Linked DNA regions of Homo sapiens: all the other regions are linked to region 4. Evidence: fine-mapped expression QTL. A gene starts in region 4. Each other region holds a variant in brackets. All regions are shown on one strand. Distances are from middle to middle.

What was found.
Region 1: its variant is fine-mapped to the expression of IGSF21 in cerebellum (GTEx, PIP 0.95).
Region 2: its variant is fine-mapped to the expression of IGSF21 in testis (GTEx, PIP above 0.99).
Region 3: its variant is fine-mapped to the expression of IGSF21 in pancreatic islets (PISA, PIP 0.95).

The regions. Positions count from the first base shown.
Region 1 is chr1:18,223,370-18,231,474 of GRCh38, forward strand. It overlaps IGSF21 (immunoglobin superfamily member 21), which reads left to right. Exons shown (of 10, transcript NM_032880.5): 2 at 4,529-4,641. Among named protein-coding and RNA genes, the nearest start is that of IGSF21-AS1, 51 kb to the left of the region's middle. RefSeq lists an enhancer at 7,628-8,105. The variant T/C (reference allele first, on the strand shown) is at 3,184.
Region 2 is chr1:18,175,102-18,183,206 of GRCh38, forward strand. All of the region lies in intron 1 of IGSF21 (immunoglobin superfamily member 21), which reads left to right. IGSF21-AS1 (IGSF21 antisense RNA 1) reads right to left here and starts at 935. Exons shown (of 3, transcript XR_001737917.3): 1 at 850-935. RefSeq lists enhancers at 102-603, 604-1,103. The variant C/G (reference allele first, on the strand shown) is at 3,355.
Region 3 is chr1:18,145,669-18,153,773 of GRCh38, forward strand. All of the region lies in intron 1 of IGSF21 (immunoglobin superfamily member 21), which reads left to right. Among named protein-coding and RNA genes, the nearest start is that of IGSF21-AS1, 26 kb to the right of the region's middle. RefSeq lists enhancers at 949-1,450, 1,451-1,950. The variant G/A (reference allele first, on the strand shown) is at 3,922.
Region 4 is chr1:18,103,970-18,112,074 of GRCh38, forward strand. It overlaps IGSF21 (immunoglobin superfamily member 21), which reads left to right and starts at 3,829. Exons shown (of 10, transcript NM_032880.5): 1 at 3,829-4,229. The coding sequence starts at 4,160.

The sequences.
Region 1 (8,105 bases), 120 kb after region 4:
TCCCAAGAGACCCCATCAAGTAGTATGTTCTGCTCCAGCCAGTAGCAAGAAGTGGTAGAAAGAAGTTGGCTTTGGAGCCAGATAGCTCTGGGTTCAGATCCCAGCTTGGCTGCTCTGTCCATGAGGCATGGAATGAGGTGCTCCATAGCTCTGAACAGTAGCTCGTTCCTGTCTGTGACAGAGGCATATTTACAGGAGGGTACGAGGACCCAAACTGCCTGTGCCCATGAACGCTCAGAATGCATCGCTTATTGTATTCATATTTTAATACTCTACTGATATTAATGGAATTCATATTCCAGAAGGAGAGGCAGATGTGCAAACAGACAATTGCACTCCAGTGTGACATACTCATGGTCGTGGCATCGTACAAGGCACTGGTTGCTGCCTGAGCTGCTGAAAAAATGGGAGTGAGAGTGCTGGGAAAACTAAGTGACACATGCTCAGGCAAGGAGTTTTAGTCCTTAGAGCTAAACCTGTCTCTGCAGCCTGGAAACCCCACTCCCTCAGCTTCCTGCGGGGATGAGAAGGGGAGTGCCCAGCTACGAGCATTTCTCCTCCTGGCTGCTACCATGACTCCAAGTAGGGCCATCCCTGGAATGGAAGACACAGTCACTCCTGCCTCGGTTTACAGTGGTGTTTCCCGACATTTGTTTTCAAGGACTCCAGCAGGGCTGAGACTAGGGTGAAGCTAGCCAGGTGCACAGGGGGTAACATTCAAAGAGGCACCCACTCACTCTCAGGATGGTGCAATGAGACGGTGTCCTTTAATTTTGCACTGCAGGCCCCTTGCTTGTCTCACTGTATTCGCTCCCATTCCTGGCTCAGGTTCTACAAGATGCTCTGAAAAAGATGGGCTCCAGAGTGTAAAATATGAAGAAAAATTTCCCACTCTGGCCCAAACTTGGAGGGTCACAAGGCACTGTGAGCACACACTCCAGCTTCAGGGCCTTTGCGCTTGACATGTCTTCTGCCTGGAATGCTCTCTCCTCAATACCCCTATGGCTCACACCTTCCTTTATTCCAGCCTCCTCAGAAGGGCCTCCCAGGGCCCCTCTGGCTAAAGAAGCCCCTCCCCCATTGCCTTCTATCACTTCACTCTGCTTTGCTTTTCCTCATTATGTTTATCACCACTGGACATATTTTCCATCATTTATTTGATTATGGGCTCTTCTGCTAAACTGGCAGCTCCATGAGGACAGGGACGTGTCTATTGTTACTGATATGTCCCCATTGCCTACAACGGTGCCTGGTACGGAATAGATTCTCAATTAATTTGTTTTTCATGCATAAAGGAAAGACAGGAAGAAGGAAGGAGAGAAAGTTAAGAGAAGTCCTGAAGGGAAGAACGGGTTTAATTATACTTAACCCAATATCTCTTAAAATTCATGGATGTTGGAAATCATGTTTTCCTGCCAGACATGGTGGCTCATGCCTGTAATTCTAGCACTTTGGGAGGCCCAGGCGGGTGGATCACTTGAGGTCAGGAGTTTGAGATCACCCTGGCCGACATGGTGAAACCCCATCTCTACTAAAAATACAAAAATTAGCTGGGTATGGTGGCAAGCACCTGTAATCCCAGCTACTCAGGAGGCTGAGGCAGGAGAATTGCCTGAACCCGGTAGGTGGAGGCTGCAGTGAGCCAAGATCACACCACTGCACTCCAGCCTGGATGACAGAGTGAGACTCTGTATCTCTCTCTCTCTCTCTCTCTCTCACACACACACACACACACACACACACACACACACACACACACAAAGAAATCATGTTTCCTGAAACACTGGTGAGAAGATCCCTATTCTCTGCACACTCTGGGAAAAGCTGTCTTGTCTTAACCTGTCAGAGCCACCCCACTCCTGCACACACTTCCTGATTCACCTCTAAGACTGAGTGCGTATGCAGTGGGCTCTCTGATCTCACCCTGGCATGCCTCTGTGAATTCTACTGCCCCAGACATCTGCTGCGCCTGCCAGTGCTCCTAACACTACCACCCAATCACCAGAGCTGCAACCACTCCCCTACTTGCCCTCCCCGCCACCGCCACACTTACACTTGCAATTCCCTCATGGCTTGCCAACAAATGGTGACCCTCCATCCTGCCCTGCCTGCCTCACAGGCACACACCATCTGCACCCACCTCGGGCTGCTCAAAGATTTATGCATCTGAGAATATGTCCTTCCCTCCTCTTTCCAGTGGGAGGAGGACCTTCATGAGCCTTGATCTCATCAGCCATCTGGACTGATGAGGCTCAACTCATAACTATATCTGCAAAGGTGAGAGAGAGCCCAGGGGAGGGCAGCCTCACTGGAAGATTGAGCCACGTGGCTCAGAATTGTGGCCATGGGGTCAGGTCCTCAACTCCTATCACAGTTCCTGCCACAATGCCCATCCTCCATCTTTAGGGCTGGAAGAAAAAAGTATGCAGGCTGCAGATGTACAGTGTTTGCCACTTTCTCTCACCTCTTCCGAGAGGCTGTAATAGCGTGGTGGTTGTCATGGAGCCCGAAGGTTTGGGTTTGAATTCCAGCTCTGTAACTTGCAGCTGTGTGATCTGGCAGGGGACTTCACCTCTTGGTTCACTCACAGAAAGTGGGAATCATAATAGTTCCTCTCTCCTAGGAGTGTCCTGGTGATTAAGTGAGTAGATGCATATCATATCAAGTGCTTAGCCCAGTGCCTGGCACAAAGCAGGTGTGCACATGTGAGCCAGTATCACAATGTTACACTCAGGCTTGGCTTGCCCGGAGGTCTCCCTTTCCGTGGGGTCTGTCCTCCTGAAGGTGGCCTCCTTGTTTGTCATGCCCCATGGCTGGGATCATCCAGGCTGGATCAGATTCCCTCTGTGCCCACCCACAGGCCCCCGTCCGCCTACCTAGAGGCTGGCTGGTCACCTGAGTGGTGACTGTGTTGGGCATCTCTGTCTCACCCTCACTGCTTGTTCCTGGAGGGCCGAGCAATGCCTGGGTCTCTGCTTCCCAGATCCTGGCCCCAGGCCCGCACAGGGTAGGTGGGAGTGAACTGGGGTTGAGTAAATGAGGAAAGGAGGATCCGGGTTGGTCCTTCTGATCTTGGAAGTTGGACCGGTTGGTTGTGGTTGTGGCTTTGTCAGACCAAGTGGGCTCCAGGGCTATCCAGGGGCTTGACCTCTGGCCTAAGTTACAGGCCTCCCTGGAGTGAGC[T/C]CCTTGCCTTGCCCCTCACCCTGGAGGCTGGGTCCTGAAGCCTTGGACCGTGCAGGTCCGCTCTGACTCCAACTTCCAAATTGATCCTCTCCAGGTCGATTCTTGTTTTGTTTTGTTTTTTGTTTTCCTGGAGTGTTGTAACCATTGAGTTCCAGGCAGGGGTCAGGCCCATGGGCTCCATCTATTCAGCTTGCCTGCACAATTGAAATCTTCGAACCCATCCTGGCTAGTTTTCTCATTAAGACTATCGGACTGGATTGATCCATTAGATCAATGACTGGACATCAGCCGGCAGGAAGCCGATCAGATGAGCCTGGATGATCAGCCCAGGAATGAGGTTCCCCTCGGAACTGCGGTGAAGGTCCAGGCCTCTGGGATGGGGCTAGTGGAGGCAGAGGAGTGGGTTAGAGGCCTCACCAGACTAGACTTTGGTGTGGAGAGAGCAGTGTCCCCAAGGTGTGGCTACCAGGGCAAGAGTCCCAGCGTCTGCTCCAGGCACTCCCAGGGGCAGCTGGTAGTAGTCCGGGAAGCATCACCTGGTGTTTGCAATGAGTTCAGACTCCTCCCCAGATAGTGGGTCTATAATGGACTTCTCTAACATATCACCACTGCCATGGCCAAGGCTTGGACCCGACCCTCCCTTTAGGTGGCAAAGTATGTGTGGTGGGAAAGCCAATGGAGGGTGTTAAGGAAGCCAATGGTGGTTTCCCAGGGCTCTCTTTTTACCAGGAGTCATTTGTTTATGAGGTTGGAAATGGAGGAGTATGGGCACTTAGAACACCATGTCCCAGTGTGTATTTCTCAGATCCTGGCTGCGTAGGATGGTGGTGGGGCTTAAGGGGTGGCTGAGCGACCCATATTCAAATAGGTTTGGAAATGCCAAGTAAATACATTTCGGCATTCATTTCCTGCAGGACCGAATAGATGAATCATGAATGCCACAACTCTAAAAAGGGGTGGAGGGGCGATGTTGGGGCACAGAAGCCTTCTCTGGGGTATCTTATAGAAATACATTGAGGCTGTTCTTGGAGGTGCCAGCAGGTCCTACCTTCAGGGAAAAATGTGTCCCAAGCAGAAGTGTTTTTGGTTTGGAGGGATCCATTGGAGCCAGGGAGGCAGCCAAAAAGGAGATGTTGAAGAGAGGGAAGAAGAGGGTGATTGGCTCCATTTGGGCCTGCAGTCACCATTCACAGAAACCACAGTGTGAACAGCGTCCCTCAAAGTTGTGCAACTACAGACCCCAAACTTCCCTCCTCTGTCTGCTGTCTCCCTGGCCCTGCCCTCATCAGCCCAGCCCCTCTGATCTGCTCGTGCCCTTACCACCCCTTTCTCCTCTCTTCTGTAGGCTACCTGACAGTCAACATTGAGCCTCTCCCCCCTGTGGTGGCTGGAGACGCCGTGACTTTGAAGTGTAACTTCAAGACAGATGGGCGCATGCGGGAGATCGTGTGGTACCGGGTAAGTCACTACTACTGCCCCCTTCATGCCCATGGCCAGGACTGGTGTGAGGTCCTCAGAGCCCTCTGGACACCCTCACTGGTGTGGCTATGACCTCAGCCCTGACCCAGTCCTGAGTTGTCCTGGGCATCTGCTGGGTCCCCGCCCTCTGCTGACACCCTCCTTGGGTACTAGCCATCCCTTCTACCCTCAGGACTGATCTGGTTTCCACCTTCTTTGTGCTCCTATTATGCCCCTACGCTTGGAAAACTCCATTAGGCAAAGTAGAAGTTACTGAGAACACCCTGGACCCTGGGCACAGTGTAATCACAAGTGATATCTGATGGTGGAATTTTGAGCATGAGGCTTCGGATAATGTTTTTGGCAAGGGAGAGAGAAAAACAGGAAGGCTTCCTGCCTTTTGCAAAATCAAATCACAGAGATAGTCTGCCACCTAATCTGACTACGTATAGGACTAATCCTGGTGTCTGGCACCATCTGAGAAGGGAATTGGTTAGAGATGAGAAGGTACCCACCTGCCCAGGGCCCAGGTGTTGGCACCAGGAAGAACAGCTTGGAATCTTGAGCACAAGGGGCCTTTTCAACCACTGAGTGAAATCTTCTTGTGTCTGGATGGGGCATCCCAGTCTTCTATCCCTTTGCCACAAAGGAATTGGGGCTGGGCTCAGAAGGTCCAGGGGGCAGTGATGCTTTTCTTCCAATGCATGCTTGAGTGTGCACAGATAAAGGCACCACCATCCTGGGGGAGAACTCCTCTTCTGTCATCTAAACAGGGGTTGGCAACATTTTTTGGTGACGACTGAGATTGTAAATATTCTCCTGTCTGCCAAACATTCAGTCTTGGTCACAGTTACTCAACTCTGCTGGTATGGCATCAAAACAGCCACAGACAGTGTGTAAATGAAAGGGCATGGCTGTGTGTCAATGAAACTTTACTCATGGGCACCAAAGTCTGAATTTTGTACAAGGTTCATGTGTCATAATTTCTTCTTCTTTTTATTTTTTTTCAATGATTAAAAAAGGTAAAAACTGTTCTTAGCTCGCTGGCTGTACAGAACAGGCTATAGAATGACTTGGTTCATGGGCTATAGTTTGCAAATCCCTGATCAGAAACCACGCTTTCCTAATCTTTGTTGCCCTTTCTTCAAATGAAACGGATGGATAGCACAGTTAGGTGGAGCTGTTCTGGAGGAAGTGATGGAGCATGGAAGAGAGGGCAAGGAAGGTGGGGGGTGGGCACCAAACTGTGATTCAAGATCTAGAGCTGGCTCCTCTGCTCCTTGGAGCTGTCACCACATCTACACACAGAGCATGGAAACTCAGTGTTAGAGGAATCCCTGGGGCATGCGTGCTGTTCATAGTCTTGACTCAGAACAGCTCTCTTCAGTCTCCTTCTTGCTCTTGGTCCAGGTGAGCTTTGAACCAGCCTGTCTTGGCTGCTCTGCTTTGCATTTTCGGTCTCTGATTCATGGTTTGCTTGTTGTTGCTATTTTGTTGGCTGTGATCTGCACTCCTTCTAACCAAAAATCATAGTTCTCTATTTCAGCATTGCAGTCTCTCCTGTTTAGAGTTAATTCTAGTGCCCTCCACCCAAGCTCTTCAGGTAGCCTGGGCTTCACAGGTGTGAACCTGACATCCAGCACCCTAGAGGGTCCCAGCCTTAAGGAAGGGTGCCATCCTGGATAGATCAGTGGGCCTAGAGAAAGTCAAGGCATATGTTAAATAGTGCCATGAACTGAATCACTAAGAGGTGTATTTACAGGATATGGGAACTGCTTGGCTGACACAGGCTGGGAGCATCTCATTAGCACCTGGCAGAAGGACAGGGATAAATTAACTCCAGCTCACTGCTGATGATGGGACCACATCTCTCCCTCAGCCATCCCATAGATGGGATCAGAGGGAGGGGTGGTGAAAGACAGATAGAAATATGGAGACCCAGTGGGAACAGTTAATGGAGCGAAATGGAAGGAAGTTTGGAGATGGGAAAATAGCAGTGGGCACCTCATTGCCTTCCAAGCTCTTGAAGCAACTGTCCTCCCTCCGGTTTGAAATCGAATGTTACCATAGTCACAGTGGTGAAAATCTCCCTGCAGAGGCTCCTGCTGGAGTTATGGGCAATGCTAGTGCCAGGCTGTGCCCAGGTGTAGAAGCCAGGAGCAGGTTTCCACATGGCTTGACTTGATGTTCTTGAAGATGGTGAGCAGGACTGGGGCAGGAGGATCCATGTCCTGGGCTGGACAGAGACTCTCCTTTTTCTTCGCCATCCTCCGGTAGGGAGACCCTCCTCTCTCCCCCACTCTTGCTGCCTAACCTTGATGCCACTGGTAGTTTTAAGAATCAGTGGCATCTCTTACCATTGTCAGGCGCTGCATATCGGGCCATGGTAGGCTGCACTAATTAATTTATTTTATTTCATTTCACATCCTTTGACTGAGGGCCTCTGGAGCAGGCATATGCAGATGTATGCAAATCACATGCAAATCACCCACTAGAGCCAAATGCCTGGGCCCTTGTAATTCTGTAGCTGGACGGAGGTGGTGGCTCAGCTGACTGGTTACTGTCCTCAGGTCTCAGGGAGCCCACGTGCCCGCCTATGATGGGAAGGATGGGGGCAGAGGAAGGAAGGAAATTCCAGGGAAGGGCTCCGTGTGGCCAGTTTTTGCTTTCTGCCACTCTAGCTTTCTCTAGTGATTGTCTCTCTTCCCAAAGAGGCAGCTGAAGGGAGAGAGATAAGAGCCTACCAAGATGGGGGCTCCAGGAGTCAAGGTCAGGGCAGGGCTTCCAGAGGGAATGGGAGCAGCAGCAACAGGAGCTCCAGTCTCCTTCTCCAGCCAGACCCTCCTCTGACCCCTTCCTCCCCTGCCAGACGAACCCCCCACTGTGGCTTCCTTCCCCATCTCCCTCTCCCCGCAGCCTGCCCCCCTCCTCCAAGCAGGGAGCTGCCGAGTGCTGTTTGTTTTCTGTACGTGTGTTTGCTTCCCGTCCCAGCTTCCTTTCTCCATCCTCCGTGAATGAGCTTACAGAGCCCGGCTTGGAAGGAAATGAATAGATTACACAGGCCCAGTCAGGACTGTGGCTCCAACCCCGTTAGAAGGAAGAAGCAGGGCATTGTGATGAGGCCGCCACTGCCTGCTCAGCACAGTGGGCACAAAATGGCCCAAAACATGTGTCAAGCCCAGCAGCCTCCCCTCTGGTCCTAAATACATTATCTTAGCAAAGGGATCATCCTGAGCTGTCAGAAAACATCATGAATGCATTGGATTCTTTGGGTAAATCAGGGCAGCTGATGAAATTATCTGAAGCCATAGGGATCACCTAACCTTGGAGCTAACAAAACCTCTGGCTGGATATTTGGGAAGGTCTTGCTTGTGGACCCCTCAAGGGAGGGGAAGGAAATTGGGAGGAAGCGGCAAGAGCCTGACTCTTGGACACTTTACCCCCATGGTCTGGCCAAGTGGGGA
Region 2 (8,105 bases), 71 kb after region 4:
AAACAAACATATTCAAATGCCCGTGTGACCCTTATCTGGAGTTTGAGTAAAACTCTTGGGCTTGGGCGTCCAAAACTCAGAATTCTGTCTCTGCCTCTGTCACAGATGTGCTGTGTGGCCTTGGACAAGTCACTTCCCCTATCTGGGCTCTATTTCCCCTTTATAATCTGGAGGGACTGGATTGTGTGATGTAAACAGGCCCCTCTAGCTCTGACATTTGGTAGAAGCTAAGGTTGAAGGAGGTGATTTTAGGACAAATACTAGGCCTCCCTATCTTATCTAGCGGGGAGTGAACTGCAGAGTTAGCACCCGCAGACAGCCGGGAGGAAACGAGAAAGAGCCATTTGAAGGATTCAGAGGAAGATGCCATGGAATAACAAGGGCAGCTCCTTGAGGGATGCTGCGGGGAGAGGGGTGCAGACATCCAAGGTTAAAGGCAGGAGGGGTCAGTCTGGAACCTCCTTGTCCCTTGCTCCTGGTGGGAAGTGACCCGGGAAGAACCTGGGGTAGCGGGGGCTCCCTTCCTCTGTCCAGTCCCTTATAAGGGGTCCCTTGGGCAGAGGCTGTTCTGAACCTTCCTTCCCACGAGGACTCTCTCACCAGGAGGTCACCTCCCCTAGCACAGGGGTGGCAGGACAGGGTGGAGGGAGAGCTAATGAGCCAGAGCCATGTTCCCTCCGCCTCCAAAAGCCCAGAGCAAGGCAGAGGGAAGAGCCGGGTGAATTATGCATGTGCCTGTTAATCACGCACTGATTAAAATAATTGTACTAATATTAATTCTTCCAGCCCTCTTGGAGGAGAGGGCAGTGCCTGTTCCCTGCTCCTGGCAGTAGATCATGCCCAGCAGACCTGTGGATTTGTAGGATGCTGGCTCTCTGCCAGTCCCTGGGCATGCCGCTGGATGTGAGCTCATTGTACCCTCTGCCTTGTGAAGGAGGGAAGGCCCGGTGCCTGGCCTGGATGTCTGAAACTGCAGAATGAGGTTCAGAGATGTCAAGGGCCTTAATTACAGACACACAGCAATGAGCCTGGTTGGGAATCAGGCTTCCTGCTCCGCGGGCTGTCGGCTCTGCCTGCAGGGTGAAAACAAGAAGGATTTTCAAGGCAGTGTCACATGGTTGAGCTGCTTTTAGGCAGATAACTGCAGGAGGGGACACAGAGAGGCATCCTAGCTTAAAGATATCTGACTTGCAAATGACGAGACACCTGGCTTCATTTTTCAGACACCTGAAGGCATTGTGGCAAAGTTAAGGAACGATCACAGGCTCTGGGGCCAAACAGACTTGAATTCCAGTCTGGTCTCCCCCAGGCTCTAGCCAAGTGATCTTGAGAGCAAGACTTTTCCTCCTTGAACCTTAGGGGTCCCATCTGCAAAAGGAGTCAGTCAAGCCCAGAACTGTTGTCGAGATTAAAGGATACAATCTAATAAGTAGGGCATCTCTTGGCACATAGCAGATAATCCTCGGGAGCAGTTTTCCAAGGAGTAAGCCTTTTCACACTGATGTGCCGTTTTCACTAACTGGTATTTAAGAGTATCTGCGCCCCTGACCCTGTGACCTTCTTCCCACCATGGAAGACTTTCCTCCTCTTCCTTGGTGAGGTGGGAGGAGTTCCGGGGTCTCCACAGAGAATTTAGAATACAGAGCAATTCCCCAAGGAAACAATGTTACAAGTCATTGGTAACCACAAATGTAAATAAAACGTTGTCAGCTCCCTTGGGGATTAGGGGGCTTTGGGGGCTACCCTGGGGCTTTAAGGACAACAGGCCAGCTGTGACTTTAGCAGTGCTATTAGTAGCCTTGCCCACTGCTTATTGAGCTCCTATTTGCTGGGCACTTGACATACAGCGCTTCCTATAATTTTTCTGGATGTATTTGAGGTTGGTGAGTATTTTTATTTCCCCCTTTAACAGATGAGGACACAGAGTGGTTTAATTCCAGGCTAAAGTTTGCCATCCTCCCAGTCTGTGCTTTTAACCATGACTTTATTGTATCCACTGACACTGTTTATCTGGGAAGATATATTGCTTGATCCAAGAAGCTGACTTAGAAGTGAACTTTACAGACAGATCCTTCCATAAGCTAAAGATTGCATAGACTCTGGTGGCCTAGAGAATCCAGAGTCAGTAATAATCCAATAATGGGCACTTTCTGAAGGACTCAGACAACAGGGCAGGTGGTCCAGGGTCCAAGGTTTTTCCTTTGCCCCGAAAAGTCCATGCAGAGCCCTGAGCATGTACCCAGAGATGGCTGAGAAGGACTGTGGTCGTGTGTGGGGATGGGGTCAGTGAGGTGTGTGTGTGTGTGTGTGTGTGTGTGTGTGTGTGTGTGTGTGTACATGGTTCTTGGTACATATGCATAAACCTATCTATATTCATGTGCACATAAAACATAAACACAGGCCATTATCCAGTCTCAGGTTCTCTCTGATGATTTTTTTTTCTGCAGTTGATTATTGCCTTGTCCTGTCTCTTCATCTCTTATTTCTTATTCACAAACACACTTACTGATGTGGTGTGCATTTCCTTAATTTGCATGGGTTTGCATAGTGCCTGGGGAATGATCAAATGTCTCATCCCCTCTCTCCACTTGAACAAGGAATTCCCCATTTAGAGCAACGACCCTGTGGAAGGGGGAGTGGGTGTGTTTGGGTGATTGGATCGAGGAGGTGGCACATATATGTTAAAAAGTCATATTCGGTATGCCCGTTGTCTTCAAAATATATCCTATGGCAAACAAGCTTCTCAGTGAGTGGAGAAGATGATGAATTTGGATCTCCTAGGGGGTGGATGAAGAGGCGCTGAGATTGGTGAGTTTATCTGAAGGGGCAGGGGTGGGATGCAAAGGTGGGCACGATGGGGCGAGTTTCTTACTTTTTTTCTAGCTCTCATTGGCCAGTGCTTAAGCCATCACATAGATTTCAATCAGCTGTAACAGATATAACCTTGAAGTGTGAGGTTGTCAGGAAAAAGAAGAAAGGAAGGCGGGGAAGTGGGGAGAGAGAGAGAGAAAGAGGGAGCAGGCTGGAAAAGAGAGAAAGGGAGTGTCAGACACTGTGACAACAGCGTCATTCCCTCCATCGTGTCCTGTTGACCTGCCGCAGGCCAGCCCCAAAATGCATACAGCCAGGTCTTGCCCAATCAGATATTCTCGTTATCCCCTTAATTATTCTTTACAATTAAGCTGTATGTTCTCCATTTACAGAAGAGGAAGTGAAACCATAAAGAGGTCCCTTGGCCACCGAAAGGGAGACTCGGGTTTCAGCCGAATGTCTTTCTTCCTGAGTTGAAATCCCTGATCCACCTCTTACCATAATAACCATGTGATATTGAACGAGTTATCTAACTTCATGTTG[C/G]CTCAGTTTCTGCATCTGTGAAGTGGGGATAATACTGCAGAACTATTAGGGTTGTATAAGCCTTAAATGAGTTAATGTACATAAAATGCATAGAACAGTGCCAGGTGCATATTAAATCCTGTATAAGTGTTAGCTATTATTCTATTGTTATTATTCTACGAGCATAGATTGTTCAGTTAAAAATCTTGTCCCTCCCTCTTTCTCCCAGTGCCCCTTCCTGCCAGCTTCTCCTTCCTTTTAAGAGTTAAGCCCTGGGGTCGGCTTCTCCGGCCAGCAAGTGATGTCATCCCCCCTTCCCCTTCCCCCTACCCCACCCCAGGGTCTGGCCTCCCAGAGGACGGGTCTGTGCCTGTTTTCCAGACCCCCAGGCAGGCAGCAGTTCGGGGAGCGAGCGCAGGGATGCTTATTCTCCGCCCTTCCTCTCTTTGAGAATCTAAGGGCATAAGTTAGATAACCGTGACACCTGTTTTAAATTAGCCTTCAGAAGCCTCCGACAGCTGAGAAATTATTTAACAGGGAAAGAATTGAGTTCATGAATAAATATTAATATTAAATCACCACTTCCCTAGATTTAAGAGGAAGGGTGGGGGACTCACCAATAGATGGAGGCAGCAGGTGTCCTGGAGATGCCACTGTGCAGGGCTCAGAGAAGCCAGCTGTGGGGTGGGACTACGGAGCCACCGACCATTGGTCACCTCGTTCCTGTCCAAGCCGAGAGGGGACTCTGTCCATCAGGGAGGCTGGCAGGTGGCAGAGGCAACATCCAAGCAGCTCACGGCAACTCAACAGGTGCTCGTTTGAGCTCCAACCTTCCCAGGCTGCGGTCTTAGAGGGAGAGAGACTCCACCTGAGAGCTGCCCAAAGCATGGAGCAGACTCCCACCCCCATCCCTCAGAGAGGGGCCACTGTCCCAGCCCAGCCTGGCCCCATTGTGACTTTCATGGGTCCAGCACTGTTACCTCCGTGGGCCCCTGCCTCCATGTAAAAATGGTAAAATGTTTATTTTATGACCACATTGGAATAAAGATGTATTCCAAAGATGTAATCCAGGCTGGATTTGTAATTCTATATTCATTATTATTTTATTCATTTTTTTCCCTGATTTTAAAAGGAATCAAAATGAAAACATATTTTGGGCCCTGGGCACGGTCCCTACTGGGCCTGATGGAGGCGGCAACTCTCTGGCTGGGGTCGGGGTGACGGATGCTTGAGCCAGGGAAGCAGGAACTGGTGAGGAGGGGTCGGCTTGGGGGTGAGGGTCTCCAGGGGATGGCAGAGCCACCCAAGGGATGTGAGGATCTGGAAACTCAGATCCCATCCTTTAGGTCCAGATCACAGATTGAAATTAAGTAAGAATCATCAATTTCTATGAATAACAAAAGTAATAATAATGAGTATGAATGAATAGCACACTCTGCTTTGACTGTCCTGACCCCCTTGGCATTCTTCAAAAGCCTCCAAGCAAAAGGAAAAGAAACTGCCAAGCACATTCCAGGCTCAGGGCCTTCGCCTTAGCTCTCCTGGCCTGGCATCCTCTTTCCTGGTATTTGAGTGACTCGCTCTCCCTTCTTCTTGGGTCACCATCCTAGTGAGGTTCTTCCTGGCTTTTGGATCGAAATAGCCCCTCTACTCCCTTTATCCACTGTTCTTTTCCCCTCCTTAATTTTCTCCATAGCACTTCCTGCTTCCTTATATTCCACTGCGTGACACATGGAAACATAGGGTATAATAGAATATACGCTGCATGTGGCGAGGTGTAGATGTTTACCAGGTTGTAGGGACTTTGTTTCATTCTTCTTTGTGCACTTAGCATCTAGAATAGTGCCTGCCATGCAGGGTGCTCAAAAAACCCTGAATGAATGAATGAATGAAACATGTCTGGCACATACATGGCAGTTACAACCATCTTTGTGCCTAGCGCTTTGGGTTGCTGAGCCCTCAGCCTTCAGTGAGGAGGTATTGGCCTTCTTCCACCATTGCAGAGACTGAGGCCTGGACATACAAACAAGCATGCCCCACAGTCATACAGTTAAGGTAGATCAATAGCTTCCCTGGATAAAACAAAGTGTAGACAGGTCCAAGGTTTGAGCAAAAAAGTGGTTTGGAAGGCGCAGTTATGGAAGGATGAGGGAATAAGGGGGCTGATGATTTCCCTTCCTACTCCAGGTTCAGCATTTCAGTTTCTGTCTGCACCAGAGCCTTCTAGGCTCTTTGTTGGAAACTGTGGATGTCACACTATAGCTCATACTTACTTATACAGAATTTAATATGCACCTGGCACTGTTCTATGCATTTTACATATATTAACTCATTTAAGGCTTATACAACCTTGATGAGTTCTGCAGTATTATCCCCACTTCACAGATGCAGAAACTGAGGCAACATGAAGTTAGATAACTCGTTTGATATCACATGGTATTGTGGTAAGAGGCGGATCAGGGATTTGAAATCAAGAAGAAAGACATTGGAGTTGGGGACACTGGTTTAAGTGCCTGCCCTGCAGAACCTAAGCAGATCTGTTTTCCCCTGGGCCTCAGTCTCCCCCTCTGTAAAGGAGGGAACTGGGCCACAGTCTGTGATCCCTGCATCGGGCAGGGCTGAGTGCTCCCTTCTTCTGCATCCAGGCTTCCCACCAGGGAAGGGAATGAGCCCTCCTCCTTGCTGCCTCCCCTCCTCCTAGTCCCCGGCTCAGGGCCTGATGCCTGCAGGTGGTGGTGGATCCTCGGTCGTGCGGCGGATGTGTTCTGGCATCATTTAACACCTGCCTCATATCTCCGAAGCCCCATCCTACACGTAGCTGTGAGCACATAGCTCTGCCGAACTCCAAATAGACATAAGCCACTGCCCTGCTCGGCTTCTTGTCTAATTATGGCTGCGACATTGATGTGACAGGGTGCGTTTAATTACAGGACCATGCACACTGACCCAAACGCTGTTTTGGCCCAGAATTTTCCAGCTTGAGCAGCCCAAACGCTGTGTGTGATGATAATAATAAGGACCTTTAGATTGTGCTGGGGATTAAATGAGATAATACATGCTTCTGGCAGGGAGCAGGGCACCAGCCAGTGACCTGTGGTCAGGTCCCAGCTCCTCCTTCCCCTTCCTGCTCCTGACATGGATGCCCACTCTGCCTAGCCATGCCCTGGAAAGACACCCATCCTATCTTGGCTAGGCAGAATGTCAGCTCTGTCTTTTTTGAATTTGTCCTCCAAGGATTTGCAGAAGATGGGAACAGGGGAGGCCTTCTGAATATAGTGACTCTTCTCCCAGCTCCCAGAAGCACATCTGGCTTGGCAGCATCTTTGGGCCACCCAAAGCCAGGGTCCCTTGGCCCAGGCAGCATTTGGGTCAGTGTGAGGGCCTTCAGTAAGCACACGTTCCCATCTTGACACCACTGCCATCACTAGATAAGACACTGAGAGGGACGGCGGGCTGTGTTCATTTTGTGTCTGATGAGCTCTGCTATAAAATGAGGAAAGCAGTTCAGAGAAATTAAGCAACTTGCCCAGAGTTGTCCAGCTAGGAATTTCCAGAGCTGTACTCAGATTCAGAACTCTGGGTGACTGCCCTATGCCAGGCACCCCCATTTGTTAGCCTTTAAATGGGATCTGAAACCTTTATTTATCGGGACAAGTCCTGAGTGTCCAGCAGACCAAGCTTTCCTTCCTTTCCTTCCACCACAAAGTGGAAAGTCTTGCCACCACTTCTGAAAGGTGTCTTTTTTTTTTTTTTTTTTTTTTAGACAAGGTCTCACTCTGTTGCACAGGCTGGAGTGCAGTGGCGTGATCTCGGCTCACTACAACCTCCACTTCCTAGGTTCAAGTGATGCTTCCACCTCAGCCTCCCCAGTAGCTGGGATTACAGGTGCATGCCACCACATCCGGCTAATTTTTTTGTATTTTTAGTAGAGACAGGGTTTTGCCATGTTGGTCAGACTGGTCTTGAACTCCTAACCTCAGGTGATCCGCTCACCTCGGCCTCCCAAAGTGCTAGGATTACAGGCATTAGCCACTGCACCCGACCCCCAGAAAGTGTCTTTTGAGGGTAACTTGTTTCTTCTTTTCCTGAACCTGTGGCATATGTCACAACTCTTAGCAGCTGTCCCAGCACTGGTTCTTTTCCCTCCTGGCAGTGACCAGAGCTGTCATTAAGTGACTCATTGTGAGAGCAGAGACTGTCTCTGTCACCACTGTTGAATGAATGAATGCATGCATGGATGAATGAATGAATGAAACATGAAACTCTTTCCTGAGTTCTGTCCTTTCATTGCTCTAGCATGCTGCCCTCTGAGCACTTCCCACCCCTCGAGGGGGGTCATCCGTATAGGGGTGGGAACAGAGCCAAGGTGCCTAATGGGGTCCGAAGCCTCTCCACCTGGTGAAATTGCCTGTAGATTCCATGTCTGTGTCTGTCCACTTGACCCATGCTCCAGGCCCCGCTGCCCTCATCTCTCGTTCCCCTGATGAATCACACGAGGCCTGGTGACACAGCATCATCACTCTCCTTATCCAGCAGACGCGACATCACCCTCCTTCACCCGCTGCAAACTGGCTGCCCAGGCATTACAGGAAGCCACCCTGCCCCCTCCTGGGCCTGGCTGCCCTCGCCTCTGTAATATCCTTTTTCTAATAGAGTGACCTGAACCCTATGTGCTGTTCTAAAAGCAGCCTCAGAAGCCCCTGAGACAGGCAGCCAGGTAATTCCCCTGGCGGAGGCACGATCTTACCTTGCCCTGCATGTCTGAACCTGCT
Region 3 (8,105 bases), 42 kb after region 4:
ACAGAAGGGTGGGGAGGGACTAATAAAATGCCATCCCTCATGTCGGCTTCTCAGGGCGGCAAATGTGGCAGGTTCATAAGGAATGCGCAGGGCACCTGCCGGCTGAGCGTGGAGGTTAGGGAAGTCCAAATGATGCCCTTGGGCTCCCCTGCCAAGGTCGACGCTCTGCCAGGGGATGGAGCCCAGAACCAGGAGGAACTTTGGTTGCTCCTTTATTCCTCCTTCCAAGAAGTGTTTCCAGGCTCTGGCTCAAACCCTCCTGGGCAGAAAGGGACAGGAGCCTAGCTTGGTCTTTTAGGGGAGAAAAGTGTGGCTTCTGCTGGGACAGTGAATGAAGAGTGGGCTTGGCACTGACCCTGGCTCTGCTGTGTGACCTTTGGGCAAATACCTCACCCTCTCTGATCCTGTTTACATATCCATCTAAAGGAGAGAAAAAGGAGGGTATTATGAGGATTAAGTGCCATACTGTAAGGAAACAGGCAGAGAGGGAATATGTAATCAATGCCAGTTTCTCCCCACTCTCCATTAGTTTCCGAATTTCTTGCAAACTGCAAAGGACAGATCTCTTGCTATATTTGTGCCAGAACACCGAGTCCAAAGCACTGGGCCTAGCAGGGAGTGAGCGTCCATCAGTTTGAGGATGGTCCCTTCCTCTGCTTTGTACCAAGAGGGGGATGGGTGGGGTGCAGTATGGAGGTGGGGCAACGTGAGTCTATTCTGGGCCATGTCGTTGGCTCAGCGGGCGACCTTGACTGAGTCATTTCACTCTCAGGAGAGGCTGGAGCTGAGCCAGTGCACCTTCTCCTGGGCCCTCCTGGGATCACTGCTCCAACGCAGGGAGGGATTGGGACAGTGAAGAGTCAGGCTTCTCCCCACACCAGCCCAACCACATGCTGCCCACACCTCCACTCCCTTAGGGGAGAAGTGCCTCCTTTTGGTCAAGGTAGTAGGAGAGGAACTGAGCGTTCAGCCTTGTTTGATATGTGAGCAAACTGGAATTGGTTTCTGGCCAAGGTTGTGGAGCCACCGAGGGTCCCGGGTGAGACCAGAATCAGTTCTGACGTGCCCCTCTCCCCAGCCTTTCTTCCACATTTCTCTCTTCATGACGCTCTCCCATCTCTGTCTTCATGTTCTATCTTAATTGATCCTCATAGCACCCCTGATATGTAGATGAGGAAAGTAAGACTCAGAGGGGTTAAGTGACATATTCAAGGTCACACAGCTGGTTAATGGTAGGGTAAGAAATAAAACACATGCCTTGTAGCAAACACCAAAAGTAAAAACATGGTCACCCTGATTCCTTGTCTGCCCTTGCTCTCTACGCCTGGTCCAGGAACGAGTTCTGGAGGCTCTTCCCCCAATACATCCTGCATCTGGATGACGCTTCCCTCTGACGCCACTGCCACCCCAGCCCAGGCCACCACGTGTCCACGCCTGCCATAGCCTCCCTGCTGGTCTTGCGGCTGCCACCCTCATCATCCAGCTCTCCAGGTGTCCAGAGAGATATTATTAAAATGTAAATCAGATCCAGTCGCTTCCGGGCTTGAACCCCTCCAAGGTCTGCCATCGTGCTTGACATCAAATCCCATGCCTTACTCTCCTTCCTCTGGTGGTGCCTGCTCTCCCACCTCACCCTGTTTGATTCTCTCCTGTGCTCATGCCACTCCCACCACTCTGGCCCGCTTGCTTTCTCCCAAGCGTGCTTGTCCAGCCTATGGGCCTTTGAACTCAGAGCTTCCTCCGCTTGGATCACCCTTGCTGGGATGATCCTAAGACTACAACCTTCCTGTCCTGCAGGGCTGAATTTAAATAAAAAGCACCGAGAAATACCTTCCCTGACACCACCCCATTGAAATGTCACCTCCTTCCCCTATTTTCCCTTTATATGAATACATCTGAGCCATCTGTCAGGACACTGCTTGCTAGCATTAATAATTTTGTTGGTTTTTTTGCTCATCATCTGTTTCCCCACTAGAATATAATTTTTGTTGTGACTATGATGATGAAACATTGTGTACCTCCTACATACCAGGATGGTTCTAGGTTTGCATATACATAACTTACTGAGATTTGCAACAACTTTGTGAAAGGTACTATTATTATCTCCATTTTTACTGAGGACACTTGATATGGTTTGGCTGTGTCCCCACCCAAATCTCATCTTTAATTGTAGCTCCCATAATTCCCATGTGTCGTGGGAGGGACTTGGTGGGAGGTAATTGAATCGTGGGGGTGGGTCTTTCCTGTGCTGTTCTCTTGATAATGAGTAAGTCTCATGAGATCTGATGGCTTTATAAGGGGGTGTTTTCCTGCAGAAGTTTTCTCTTGCCTGCCGCCATGTAAGACATCTCTTTGCTCTTCCTTCATCTTTCGCCATGATTGTGAGGCCTCCCCAGCCCTGTGGAACTGTGAGTCCATTAAACCATTTTCCTTTATAAATTACTCAGTCACAAGTATGTCCTTTTTTTTTTTTTTTTTTTGAGATGGAGTCTTGCTCTGTCGCCCAGGCTGGAGTGCAGTGGCGCGATCTCATCTCACTGCAAGCTCCGCCTCCTGGGTTCACGCCGTTGTCCTGCCTCAGCCTCCAGAGTAGCTGGGACTACAGGCGCCCACCACCATGCCCAGCTAATTTTTTTTGTATTTTTAGTAGAGATGGGGTTTCACCATGTTAGCCAGGATGGTCTCGATCTCCTGACCTCATGATCCGCCCGCCTCGGCCTCCCAAAGTGCTGGGATTACTGGCGTGAGCCACCATGCCCGGCCTCAAGTATGTCTTTATTAGCAGCATGAAAACGGACTAATACAACACTGAAGCCCGGAGAAGCTAAGTCACTTGCCCAAGGCCACACAGCTGGCTAGTGGTAAAGCTGGGATTTGAACTCAGGCAGTCCAGCTTCAGCGTCTAGACTCTGGACCACAACACTAGGCTGTAAATTGCATCAAGGCAGCAGCCAGGTCTCTTTTGTTTCCTGCTGCATCCCCAGTGCCTAGTGCAAGGCCTGGCACCAGGAAGGTGCACAGTAGATGTTTGTGGAGTGAGAGGATGTGTGCCACGGTGAGTAAGCATAGACCCTGCCCTCAGAGATATCATATCATCGCTTATTTCATTGCTCAGAAGACACAGGGAAATAAAAATAAGAAGTGGAAAAAACAAGCCTGTATAATTCAAAGCATAAACATGTTATCCTTGAATGAGTGAGATTGTTTGTAGTCAAGTACAGAGTAGCCCTCCTGCCCCTGCACACACAAGTTAGTGTCTTATACTCATTAAAAAAGCCGGAGCATAAACCCAGTGCTTGAGCTAAGTGTGCACGAGTTCTTACGGTGTCAGCAAGACGTGCTCACCAGAGTGTGTCTGGCGGCATCCCGGAGACTCTGCCAGGCTAAGTGCATGGAGCAGGGTTCAGAGGTCTGCATGCTCCGTAGTACTCCTGCGGCCCACCTTGCCTGGACAACAGCTGGGACAGGCGTGTCACTGACATGTGTGCCTGAGCCCCTCTGTCCAGCCTGGCACAGCCCCTGCTGGCCAATGCTGGGACATGGGCCAGCAGCCTGCAGAGGGTGTGTGTGGCCATGGTGGGTAATGACACGTGGAGAGACAGAGGAGCGCTCGGTGTGCAGGGGAGACCATGGGAGCAGGGACAGTCTCCGAGGCTTCGGGGCAAGGGACTGATTTAAGTGAACCATGCACAGCGGGGATGACACACACAGAGGGAGGGGGTGGCCATCCCGGCACGGTTCAGAGGCTCAGACTCATGGCTGTGCTAATCATTAGTGTCAATACCGTGAATGCTGGCGAATCACAGAGCTAATGTTGCTAATAATAAGGGGTGATATATCCTGACTCCTCAGTCCTGGCTGGGTGCCCGGCCAGCAAGACCTGCCTCCCCAGTACCGCTCAGCTAAATGGCTGAGCCACTC[G/A]TGCATGAGCTCTCTCGGTGGCAGGCCAGCCTGACAGCTTGGCCCAATAGGTCTTCGTAACATGGGCAGATTGTGGAAATCCTGGGTGTTTTTCTGAGGCTTCCTTCGGGGCAGGATCAGCCTGGCTTCACTGATCCATCTCTAGACTCTGGCTCCATAATTTTTCGGCTTTGTGACCTTGGGGAGTCATTTCCCCTCCCCCATTGTTTCTGCATCTGTAAAATGAGAATCATTCATGTCTACTATAAAAGGTAGATCTGGGGAGCCTCTGGGATGATGTGGAACTCTGAGCAGAATGCCAAGCGCAAGTTTCACCATACGCTAATTATTATTATAATAATTACATTTTCATTTATTCAGTAGCAAGAATGTAGGCTTTGGGGCCGGGGAGTGGTGGCTTATGCCTATAATCCCAGCACTTTGGGAGGCCGAGGCAGGAGGATTGCTTGAGCCTAGGAGTTTGAGGCCATCCTGGGTAACAGAGGGAGGCTCTGTCTCTGCAAAACAAAAAATTAGCCGGGTGCAGTGGCTCATATGCCTGTAATCCCAGCTACTCAGAAGGCTGAGGTGGGAGGATTGCTTCAGCCCAGGAGCTCAAGGCTGCAGTGAGCTATGATCATGCCACTGCACTCCAGTCTGGGTGACAGAGTGAAAGAGAATTTAGGTTTTGGAACCAGGTTGAGCTGGGGTGGAATCCTCTGCTGCCACGTGCTCTAAGGCCTGGGCCTCTCTGGAAAATGGGGATAGCACCTTCCTTACGGAGGCTGGGAGGATTGGAGACAGTTCACTTGTAACAAGGAGGATGGTGCTTGGCATGGCGGGGGGGGTCTCAGGATACTTAAGGTAGTTTATAGGTTTTAACTGAGTTCCTGCCGTGTGCAGTCACTGTGCCCTGCCCTGGAGATACCTGTCCCCGATTCTGTGTTAGCTGTAGGTGTTTGAGTCAGTGTGGTCAGAGACAGGAATGCTGGCCTCCTTGGAGATGGGCTTAAGGGGCTAGGCGAGACCGGTAACTTCATACCTACTTCAGGGCCAGGAAGTCCACATACATTTGACCCCTTTCTCCTCCTTGAATTCCAGAGGGGACTCAATCCATCTCAGCACCTCCCAGGGAGCTGAGAGCCCTGAAGTCAGTGCAGTGTCCTCCGTCACCAATGCCATCAAGATACCCCATCAGGGACTCCAGCACTTTCACTGGGGCAGTTGCCCCCCTCACCAAGGTCTCTCTGAGTGGGATCACAAATGCCATTACACTCTGGATCATTCTGCTGGTGGGGCAAGAGTGGCCCCTGAGCTGATGGGGCGGCCCTAGCCCCAAATCCCTGTCATGTCCATTACCACATCAGCCTCCCAGCTTAGTGCCATCGGGAAAAAAAGCAGGGGTGGTGCCTGTCCCAGTTGGCACCAGAGAAAACAAAGGCTCAGGCAGGGTATGTGACCTGAGCAAGGTCTCCGGATGGCTGTGGCTCAGCCCTGATGAATCACAGAATACCTGAGCGTCCCAGGGCCTCTACCCAGGCTGTATCCTCTGTGTGGAGGGACCTTTCATCACTTCATTTAGGTCTCTGTTCAAATCTTCCCTTGTCAGAGAGTCCTTCATGAGCCACTTGTCACAGTCAGGGTAATTAACACTAGCTGCTGTAACAAACAATTCCAACCTCTTCTTGACACAGCACAGTAAAAGTGTATTTTTTGTTCATGCAAAATCAAATGCATTTATTCCTGGTCAGAGGCTCCCCTGAGCACTCACATCCAGGCAATGGTTCTGGGGGCCCAGCCTCTTTCATTTTGTGCCTCTGTCATCCCTGGGAGGTTCCCCGCTGGATCCTCTGTATTCAGTCTGCTGAAGAGTGAAGAGAAAGATCACATGGAGGCTCTGACCTAGAGTTTCAAGGGCCAGGTCCAGAGTGGCATATACCATCGACATCCACATTCTAGTGGCCAGAGCAGGTCACATGGCCAAATCCAACACTGATGGGGAGGGACAGTGCATGCCACATATAACAGGCGGGGGAGAGGAGTGAATAATTCACACCATGGTAGAGGATTTCACAGGATGTCTGGGGCCAGGCCTGGGCGACACTTATTCCCTGCTTCCATGGACCACAACTGACTCACACATCCTCCTTAACTGCAGGGGGCTGTGGGGGGCGGGTCTTGGAAATACGGAGAAGCTCATGGATATTGGTGAAAACTGACAGTTTCTGCCCCACAACCTAGTAATTAAAGAGATCCTAGTAGTGCTTCTCATCATGTGGGTGACCGTATAATTCATCTTCCAAATGGGACCATTTTAAGGTGAAAGGGGTCACTAATGATTATCCTCTGAACACTGGGTTTCAAGCAGGTTGCTCCAGGGATTTGGGGCACGTGGTCACCCTACTCATCACTCTGCATCCTCTCAGCCTGCTTTATTGTTCTTTTTCACACTTAATCACTGCCTAGGAGTGGACTCCGTGAGGACAGGGACCTTTCTCCCTCTGTTGCTATATCCTCAGTGCCTAGAACTGGGCCTGGCACATTAGAGGTGCCCATTATATGCCTGGTAGATGAACGAATGAATTAACTCAACTGTCTCACAGATTCCTTTTGAGGACCGACTGCACATTCATCCACAGTGCTCCTGCCCTCCTGGAGCTAAGCAGATGTCAAATGAGAAAGGGTGATGTCCAAGGACTCCAGAAGGTCATGCCTGAGTCTGGAGGTGGCTTCAAGGTTTTAACTGCGTTCCACTGCATGCAGTCATCGTGCCCTGCCCTGGAGACACCTGTCCCAGGATTCTATGTTAGCTACAGGTGTGAGGTCAGAGCAGATCCCTTGAGAAGGTGATATTTGAGCCACAGATCTTTAGAAAACACAGACCATAGACTCAGTTCCAAACAGTCTTGAGCTCACAATTTGGTTTGGCCTTTTGGGTGCTGTGTAAGCCTAGGTGAGTCACTTGACCTCTCTGAACCTTAGCTCGCTCATCTGCAAAGTGAGACCAGGCATCCGAACCTTTGCAGGGTGGTTGGGACCTAGTAACTGGTGTTGATTATCATAATCATGATTTCTCTTATTTAGATTTTAGACTTGAAGCTCCATCACTATGGAGCTTGGTCTCTGGCCATGGAGGGACCATGAAGTTTTGCCCTTCTCATCATGCATTGTTATAAAGCCAACTAAGGACAGCTCCCCAGTTCCTAGTGCCCAGAGCCCTAAATAACAAGATGCCGCTTCTTCACGTAGGGTTCCATGATCTGGCCTTAGCTCTGCCAGTTAGTAGCTGTGTAAGTCTGAACAGCTTAGCCTCTCTGAACCTCTGTTTCCTTGGAATAGGAATATCCAAGGCTATCTTATAGGGTACAGGTGAGGATAGAAGAGATAATGCAGTTAACAAGCCTCCTACAGCTTCTGCCCATAGCTATGATGGAAAAGCACGAGGGTTGATGTTGATTGCTTGCAGTGTGCCGGCCAACAATGGTGACAGCCCCAGGTTTGGGGGCTCAGTGTTCGAGCCCCCAAGGGCACTCAGATTCTGCCCAGCAGCAGCCACCACAGGGTCCTGAAAGGAGAAGGTTTGCTCCCAGCCGCTCTGCTGGCTTAGAACAGGCAGTGGGTGGTAGGGAGGCCAAGAGAGTGATGGAGGCATTCCCGGGCGTTGCTTCAGCTTCACTGTCAACCATGGAACAGTTATAGATGGTTTTGTCCTCTTGGAGATGTCCATCCCATTAGCATCCACACACGGCCCTAATGGGCTTCAGAAGGCCAATGCCAACAGTCTTGTCTTCACTCCGCAGAGGAGGCCCCAGCCAGATGGATGGAGCGGGGCTCAGAGCTGCTCAGACATCTGCAATGTAGCCCCAGGGAACTCAAAAGGCCCCAGGCCTAGGGCTGGACCCTAAGCGCAGCCAAACCCAGTGACTTGGCTCAATAACAGGCAGGAAGAACAAGGCACAGTCACTGCTCATAAAACAGCAGCAGCCACGGGGTGGATGACTGACTGGGAACCAGGTGCCGAAGGTGAATTTTCTCCTTTCATCCTCACCATCCTATGGACTTGGTGTGATGATCTCTACTTCGCAAATGAGGCAACTGAGGGTCAGGAGAGTGAAGTGATCATCTGTGGTGGTCCAGCTAGGGATGGCAGAGGTGGTGGGGTGGGGGGCTGGGGACACGAAGGGACCAGGACTTGAGTTCCGTTG
Region 4 (8,105 bases):
TGCCTGGGTGTGTGTGTGTGCGCCCCTGTGTGTGTGTGTGTGGGCATTTGTGTGTGTGTTCCTGTATGTGCATGTGGACATGTGTGTGTGTACACATGTGTGTGCCTGTGTGTGTGGACATTTGTGTGTGTGTGCCTGTGTGTGGGCATTTGTGGGCATGTGTGTGTGCCTGTGTGTATGTGTGTATGCTTGTGTGTGCCTGTGTTTGTGTGTGTACACTTCTGCTTGTGCCTGTGTTGGTGTGTGGACACTTATGTGTGTGGCTGTATGTGTGTACACTTGTGTGTGTCTGTGTACACTTGTGTGTGTGTGTGTACACTTGTATGTGTGTGCCTGTGTGTATGTGTGGTGTACTGTGTCTAGGTAAGGTGTTTGGGAACTCTGGTTCTTGAGCTCTTCCTAGGTTGGAATCTGGTCCTATTCATAGCTGTATTGTACTGAGAAAGTTGCTTAACTTCTCTGTGCCTCAGCTTTCCCAACTGTAAGACAGGACTAATGATGGGACCCACCTCATACATTATTGTGTGGTGTCAATGAATTTATATACATTAAATACTTTCACAGCACCCGGCACAAAGAGGCACTTTCATAAGTGCTTCAGACTCTTATTATTGAACCTCACTGGGTGTCCTGCTGCAAACCAGCAGAGCCCATTCCCTTGGGAGCCAGGTTGGGGTAGGCAGTCATGTGCTGCGTCCCTCCCCTTTCCTGGCAGGGAGGGTGGGGACTAGAGGTCACAGAGGGGCCCTTTGACCTCTGGGGCTATTCCCTGGGGTCCGCGGAGTAGAAGTTTGCTTTGTGCTGTAGTGCACTCTGTTGGGAGAGCCTAACTCAGCACCATGAACAGAGGGAGGCTGGGGGCAAACAGCCACACCTCCGCCAAGGACTCCAGCTCAGCCAGTGTCCGAGGAAGAGGCCTGTCCTGCCGTGACTCATGGGTCTGAGTGCCAGGACTGCAAAGTGGAGGCCCTGCCGATCCATTAGGAGACAGGAGCCAAGGGATGTTAAGCAAATTAAAAGCCCCAGGGCTGTCCCGCGTGACCTTTTCCTTTGGCTAAGGCACCCCACCCTGTGCCCTCTGCTAACTGTGCTTCTCAGTGCTCCAGAGATGTCTTTCTCTGGGACAAAGGAAAGGCTTTAAAGCTATATCTTATGAAACAGGAGCTGGAGGAGTGGGCTTCCCTGGAGGGGCCTGTGAAGGCAGCCGTATTAACCACTATGGTTACCATATGGCCATAGACATGCACATCACAGCCAGGCCCCTTTGGGCAAAACCAAACTGCGCACCTGAGCAGACACCTCCTCTCTGATGGGCCCAGTCAGAATATGTGATCCTGGCGCTCCAAGGAGGTTCACTGCCACAGGACGCCTACCAAGTGCCAGACTTGTGCAAGGAGCTGAGGAACAGAGTGGATAAGACTGAATGACCTACCCTCATTCATTCATTCATTCATTCATTCATTCACGCATTCATCCAACTGGTATTTATTGAGGATCCACTATGTGTCAGGCACTGGCTAGGCATAATAATAATTATAATACAGGGTGATGTTAAAGAGAATTGAGGTGATTCAGAAGTCTTGGGGCTGAAGGAGATCTCCAACACACCAGCCCCAATCCTTGGTCCTAGGAAGCAACCCTCCCTTGGCTGTTAGGCCTGCTTTCCTCCTCACTAGCATATCCTCAGATGCCATTCTCTAGCTCCTTCTGCTGGCTCTCTTTTCTAGCTGGTGTGAACCATGGCTGGGAAGAAACATCACTAAGGGGCCCTGGAATCCCACCTGCTCCCTGGCCCTCATCTCCAAGGGCTGGGCTGCAGGGAGCGCAGCCAGGAAGCCCCACCAATTCAGGGTTCACCTGAGGAACTGATGCTGTCCACCTGCCTAGCTGCACGCCGATTTGCAGCTGGGGCCAGAGAGTAGGAATGCCCACACAGCGATGCTTGGCATTTCCCTGCACAACTCAGACCAGCACAAGGAACCGCATGAACCTGATGCTGTTCCCCAGCCAGGGAGCCCCTTCCACAGAGGATTTAGAACCTGGGATGGACTTTTGGGTTTGTTGACTTTTTCTTGGGTCAGAGTGGGGAGGGAGGGCCAGGGAGGAGGCAGTAAGGGACTGTGCCCTGCAGCCTGAGAAGAAGGTGAGGGGGAGAGGTGACCTCAAGCTGACCCTCAGCAGCCTGGAGAAGGGGAGACCTGGGTGGATGCGAGTGAGAGGGAGCAAAGAACAGCAGCCAAAGGGAGAAGAAAGGACCTAAGACTCCAGTGTTCATCAAGTGTTCAAGCCATATGCAGTCCAATCAACCTGGAACCAATTAGTCTGATTCACAAAAAAAAAAAAAAAAAAAAAAAAAAAAAATCCCACTTAGGGACAAACTGTAATCAAACACCTATTTATAAGGGTTTATTATGATCATTATTATTATTTTACTGAGAGGATCATTCTAAAGCCTGTCAGGTGAACGTATGCTTTCAGATCTTCATAAATGCAAATCGCTCCTTCTGGGGTGGGTGAGCAAGCTGAGCCGCAGAGCTGCCTTGGGAGGCGATGGGGTGAGGTTCCAGAGGGCAGGAGGAGGGAGCAGTTCACTTTCATGGACATCTCTGCACAAAGCTCACCCAGAGGCAGCCCAGCAACCACCCATTGCCCACCCCACTCCCTACACTCCTCTCAGAGGGCTGCTGGAGATGGAACTGGCTATAGACCCATTGCCCATGTAGGTAAACGATGCAACAGCCTGACTCAGCAACCTGCCAGAGCTAGGGAAGCTGGAGATTCTCCATAGAAGGCCTGGGTAAAGGGACCCACCTGAGTTCTGAGCAGGTTTTGCCCCTGGTCGTGCTGGTTTTTCTGGGCTTTGCCAATCTTCTGGGTCCCTACCAATGGTGAAATTCTATCTCCTGAACTTCCTCATCTAACCACATCCCCAGTCCACTCCAAGGGCTAGAGTACCCCTCCCCTTCATCCTCGCAGGAGGCCTCAAAGTCCACCGCCAGGGCTGAGGCTCAATGGTGTGTGTGTGTGTGTGTGTGTGTGTGTGTGTGTGCTCGCGTGTGTGTTGGTGGGAGAGTAATGGTAACATACAAGTCCCAAACCTGTTCTTCTCGGACCTGGGAAGAAAAGCTGTCAGGTCTGGCAAAAAGGTGGAAACTTGGTCTCTGCCAGGAGGAAACAATCAGTTCCTCACCCTTCCTGGCTGGATCCTAGCACATGGGAAAAAGACAGAACACACCCCATTTCCGTGGGTCCCTGGGGGAAGGAGCAGCCGTAATTGGGGAAGTTTCAGAACATGGAAACCCCTTAATCTTGCCCAATGAGGGCATTCATCGTTGGCAAGGTCAGAACTCCAGAGCCACACCCTGCCTGCCCTGCTCCCAGGATGGCATCTTTCCCTCTCGGGAGGGAGGCTGCCTCCTTTCATCAGGCTGAGTAGCGGGGAGGGCGATGGTAATCCCGGGGATAGGAGGGGCTAGGTAAAGGCGGATCCGATGGAGCATAGCTTCCAGGGCGGGGTGTTGGGTCACCTGGGTAAGGGTTAAGAAGCTGGAGGCAGCAAGCCAGTTTTGAGTGAGGGGGGACCTGAGTGAGGGGAGAGGGGAGGTTAGGAGGGGGTGAGCTCTCCTTCTCCCTGCAATAAATCGGCTTAGCGGACGAGAGCCGAACAGCCCAGAAAGGATTAAAGAAAAGTCTGTATAATACGCGGAGAGCGCGGCGAGGGGAGGGCAAGGAGGGCGGGGGGGCGGGGAGAGGGGGAGGGACGGAGGGAGGGCGAGAGGAGGGGGGTGCTCGCGCCGCCGGGAGAGGCGAGCGCGAGGCAGAGAGCGCGATTCGGCTCCAAACTCCGGCGCTGCAGCCGATCGGACTCTGGGCCGCGGTGGGCACCGCGCGCAGCTAGGGAGCCGAGAACCGCGGCGAGCCCCGAGGACGCCCAGAGCGCGAGGGTCGCTGCGCCTCGCAGAGCCGGAGCCGAGTCGAGCCGGGCGCCCGGGCTGCCTGGCCGCGGCGGCATGGGGGCGCCCCCGCGGCTCTCCGCGCTGCCCGCCACCGCCTCGGCCAGTGGCCGGAGGCAGGAGCGCGTCTGAGCCCATGGCGAGGGGACCCGCCGCCACCGCCTCCACCCCCGCCGCCCCGCCACCGCCGCCAGCTCCCGGGCACCATGCGAACCGCCCCGAGCCTCCGCCGCTGCGTCTGCCTGCTGCTCGCCGCGATCCTGGACCTGGCGCGCGGTGAGTGCGCGGGCGCCTGGCGGGAGCCGAGCGGTGAACGTGCGCGGGGACGGGGTGCCGGGGGAGGGCGCTGGCCGGGGTCGCTCCGAGAGGCTCGGGCTACGAGCACCGGTCCTGCCCGGGGTCTGTGGAGCTGGTTGGCTCGATGAGGGAGGGAGGACGCCTCTTGGAGAGCGCTCATGGATTTGTGCCAGGGTGTGTGTGTGTGTGTAAATTGTGTGTCTTTGTTGTGTGTCTGGGTGAGGGTGTCCGGGAAGGAGCTGTGTGGGCAGAAGGTGCGGGAGTGTATTTAGAGATGCAAGTGTGTGTGTGCGTGTGTGTGTGATGGTGTGGGGTCTGCGTGTGAGTGAGCGAGGGTCTGGATGGGTGTTAGAGTGTCTGTGTCAGTTACATGGAGAAGGTGTGTGTGTGAGAGTGTGAGCGAATGTTGGGGGGAGGGTGTGAACATGTGCCACCTTCCCTGTGAGGGTGTGAAGTGTGTGAGCTTGTGTCACTGTGGGTGTGAGGTGTTAGGGGGTGGGTATGTGAGGTTTGGCGTTTCACGTGTGTCCCGAGTGTGCAGGTCTCTAGGGGTGTACGACAGCGGATTACTATTTCTGTGTGCACAGGAGATGGGACTGTGACACTGGACAAGAGTCTGCTTATGTGGGATGGGTGGGGGTGCAGGTGCCTGGGAGTCGTGGGCTTCATGGGGCTGGGAGTGTGTGTATGCGTGCCATGGAGCGTGTGGTTATCGTGTGCAGGGAGGTATGGACGCTTCCGGGGCTGGGGAGTTGTGAGCAGCTCAGTGTGTGTGTGTGTGTGTGTGTGTGTGTGTCCCGCCGTGTGGACTTGCTCCCGGGTTAGGCTAAGACAGCTAGAAGGAGGTTGAAGCCGAGCGGGTTCTCCGGAGCCAGTGAGAGGTGGCTCCGCAGCCCCAGGGTCCGCGGCCGGCCTCCCACCCAGTGCCGCCGCGTAGTGGGTCTTAAATGGAGCTGAACCCTTTCGCGCAGTGAGCAGAGAGCCAACGTGAGGCTAAAAGCCAGGAGGGAGGGAGGCGGGACCAGCGAAGAGCCGCAGGCACCGAGACTACAGGCTCCGCGTCCGGGATCCTCCTCGGAGCCTGGTGCCAACCTCAGCCTGGCTGGAGTCAGAGCCTGGCTCCGCCTCGGAGGGGAGCGGGACGCGAGGTGCCAAAAAGTCGTCTTTATGATCAATAAGGTCTCGACCCCGAGCCCCACTGGATGATAGAGGTGGGCATCACCTCTGTCCTATGCCATAGCCTTGTCCCAGCAGGAGGTGCCTACCTAGGCTCTGAGAGTGCCTGCCAGGAAGGGGTGCCCCCTTAAAAATAACCCCAACTCCTTCTACCCCGAAGTCCTTGGGGAGTGCTGGGTCTGCTGATGGGAGAAGCTGCAGAATTTGAGCCCGGAAGGTGGTCCTGACAGCGAGGGGGGAGGGGTTGGTGTAACCCAGAAGGAATGCAAACCCTGTACTTTGTTCCCCTACCCTTGGAACAAGAGACTTTCCTAAGTGGATCAAAATGTCCCCCCTCAACTTTGGGAGGAGGGCTCTAGAGGGAAAGGTTACATGGGGGAGGTCCTCGTTCCAGCGCCGCCGAGAGGGCACTGGGGTTTGTTGAAAGGCACTGGAGCCCTCACCTGGACATTGCAGGGGGCGGGGGTTGGAGGCTGGGGACCTAAGGTAAGCACCCCTTTCCCTGGGAATGCGCAGAACAGAGAGACGCGGCAGGGTGAAGGAGAGGACTGATGAGAAGGGCTTGTTGGGAAACCCTGGCTCCGTCAGGACCCCACCCTGCGAGCTCTCCCTGGAACCCGGGAGCAGGGTTCTTCTGGCTGCCCGGCTGCAGAGAGCTGACCCGGCATCCTGACGCCTCAAATCCCTTTGCCCGCCTCTGCGGGCTGCGGGAGGCGGGGGTTGGCGTGCCTGAGGGTGAGCGCATCTGGGCCGGTGCAGCCAGCGCGGCCTCGGAGCTCCGCTGCTCAGGATGAAGGAAGAGCGCAGACGCGGATCGCGAATGGGAAACTTTCCGCGTCTGGGGCGCAGAGGGAGATCCGAGGCAGCCGGGAGCCCTCTCTTCTCCGCAGAGGAGAGCACACGAGGGTGGGGTCCCTCCTTCCTCCTTCCAAGTCTGTGCCCAGAATGGGGGGCGGGGTGCGAGAAGAGTCCGTGAGAGACGCAAGAGGCGGGCTGTGCCGGAGGAGGGCGCCCTTCCTGGAGGTGGCCGAGAGAGGTGCACCTGGCAGCGGCTTTGCAGGGCCACCTGCCTCCGAGGGCGCAGAGAGGAGCAACCCGCGCCGGCCTTCACGAACGTACTGGCGGTCACTGCTCGGGGAGGGGCACGGCCAGAACGCCCTCGCCGGTTCTGCCCCTTTGGGTGGCAGAGCAAGGGTGCCCGACGCTAGAGAGTCGGGTCTGGCAGGAGGAAGGAGGCCGCTGCCCCTCGCACTGGCTGGGCCGGAAGTCCTTGCCCTGGCTCCCCACTTCCCAGAATCAGACCCTCCAAAGGAGAAACCCACATTTCTCGGGACTCCTGGGCGTGTCCTGGGGCGTTTTCAACTCCTCCAGCCCCCGTGAACCGTGCCTGGGCACTTCTGGGAAGTCCTGCACTGGAGCCTGTGCAGTGGCGCCGGGCTGGGGATGGAGGAGTGGTCCTTAGCCGCTGTTCAGCCCTGGGAAACGTTCCGCTGAGAGCAGGGTGGGGGCAGCCCCAGTTAGGGGTAGCCCACGGCCCCAGCCGGGGGTCTCCGGGATTGCGCGGGCGGAGGTGGGCGGCCCTGCGGGTTCTCGGGTTCTCGGGTTCTCTGTCTCCGCAGCCGCGTGTCAGCAGGTGGATGGGATGGAGGGGCTGTCTCCGCTAGGCCGCCGCAACCGCAACGCCGAGACTGCGGGGGCTGTGCGCGCGCGAGCGGGTGTGACGACTTTATATATTTATCCTCCCTTCACACGCCCCCTTCCCACTGGGCGGGGCCTCTGGCGCGGCAGGGTTTCTTCTCCAGCCCCAACTGGGGGAGTTAAGGGCCCTAATCCCTTGCAGGCTGCCTCGCCCATGCCCCTCCAGCGTGGCCCCGCCCCTAGCCATAAACTCCACCCCTCTTCCACCCCATAACCGCTCTGCAAATGGGAGTTTTTCATTTTCGTGTTTTAAGTGCAGAGAATATTCGAGCTGGAGCGACCTCGGAGATCACTCACTTCGGTGGTTTTGAAACTTGTGTGTTTTTCTTTTTCTTTTAAGTAGGAAAACCCTTTTAGAGGAAACATTATCACCCTCCTAAAATCCCAATACCTTGAGCAAGATGATAGATCTTAAAGTAAAGCTGCCCTGGTGGATGCTGGGGATGAGGCCCACATCGAGCGCTCCTTCCACACAAGTCTTTCACAACCTCAAGACTGCTCCCTTCCTCCGCAGCTAGTATTGTAGCTGGGGTTTTGTTTTTCCAATAGCCCCGATTATATGGATCAGCTGCGATGTGTCAAGCAGGATGCTGGCTGCTGCTTCGCAGTCCTCATTCATGCTGCAAGATAGATTTAAGACCTTCTTTTCACAGATTAGGAAACTGAGGTTCTGAGGTTTAAGACTTGTTAATGACAGAAGTACAGGCTCCTTCCGCTCCCTCCTAGTTCTGCCCCAGGCTCCTCTTTCCGCTGAATCTTCCTTTCCTCTCTCTGGCCGCAAAGAATCCCTTGGGCAGGGCATGTGAGTAGAGAAGGACCCAGGTCATCTGAGTGATGCCTCAGATCTGCCTGCTACTCTGATATTTCAGAACGTCAGTCACAGACACACTTGAACTTCACTACACTCTGGCAAGATGGGCAGAGGACGGAGTAGGGGAAGGAGGTGGAGGAGCTTAGGGGACTTGCTTAGTTAGGTGCCTG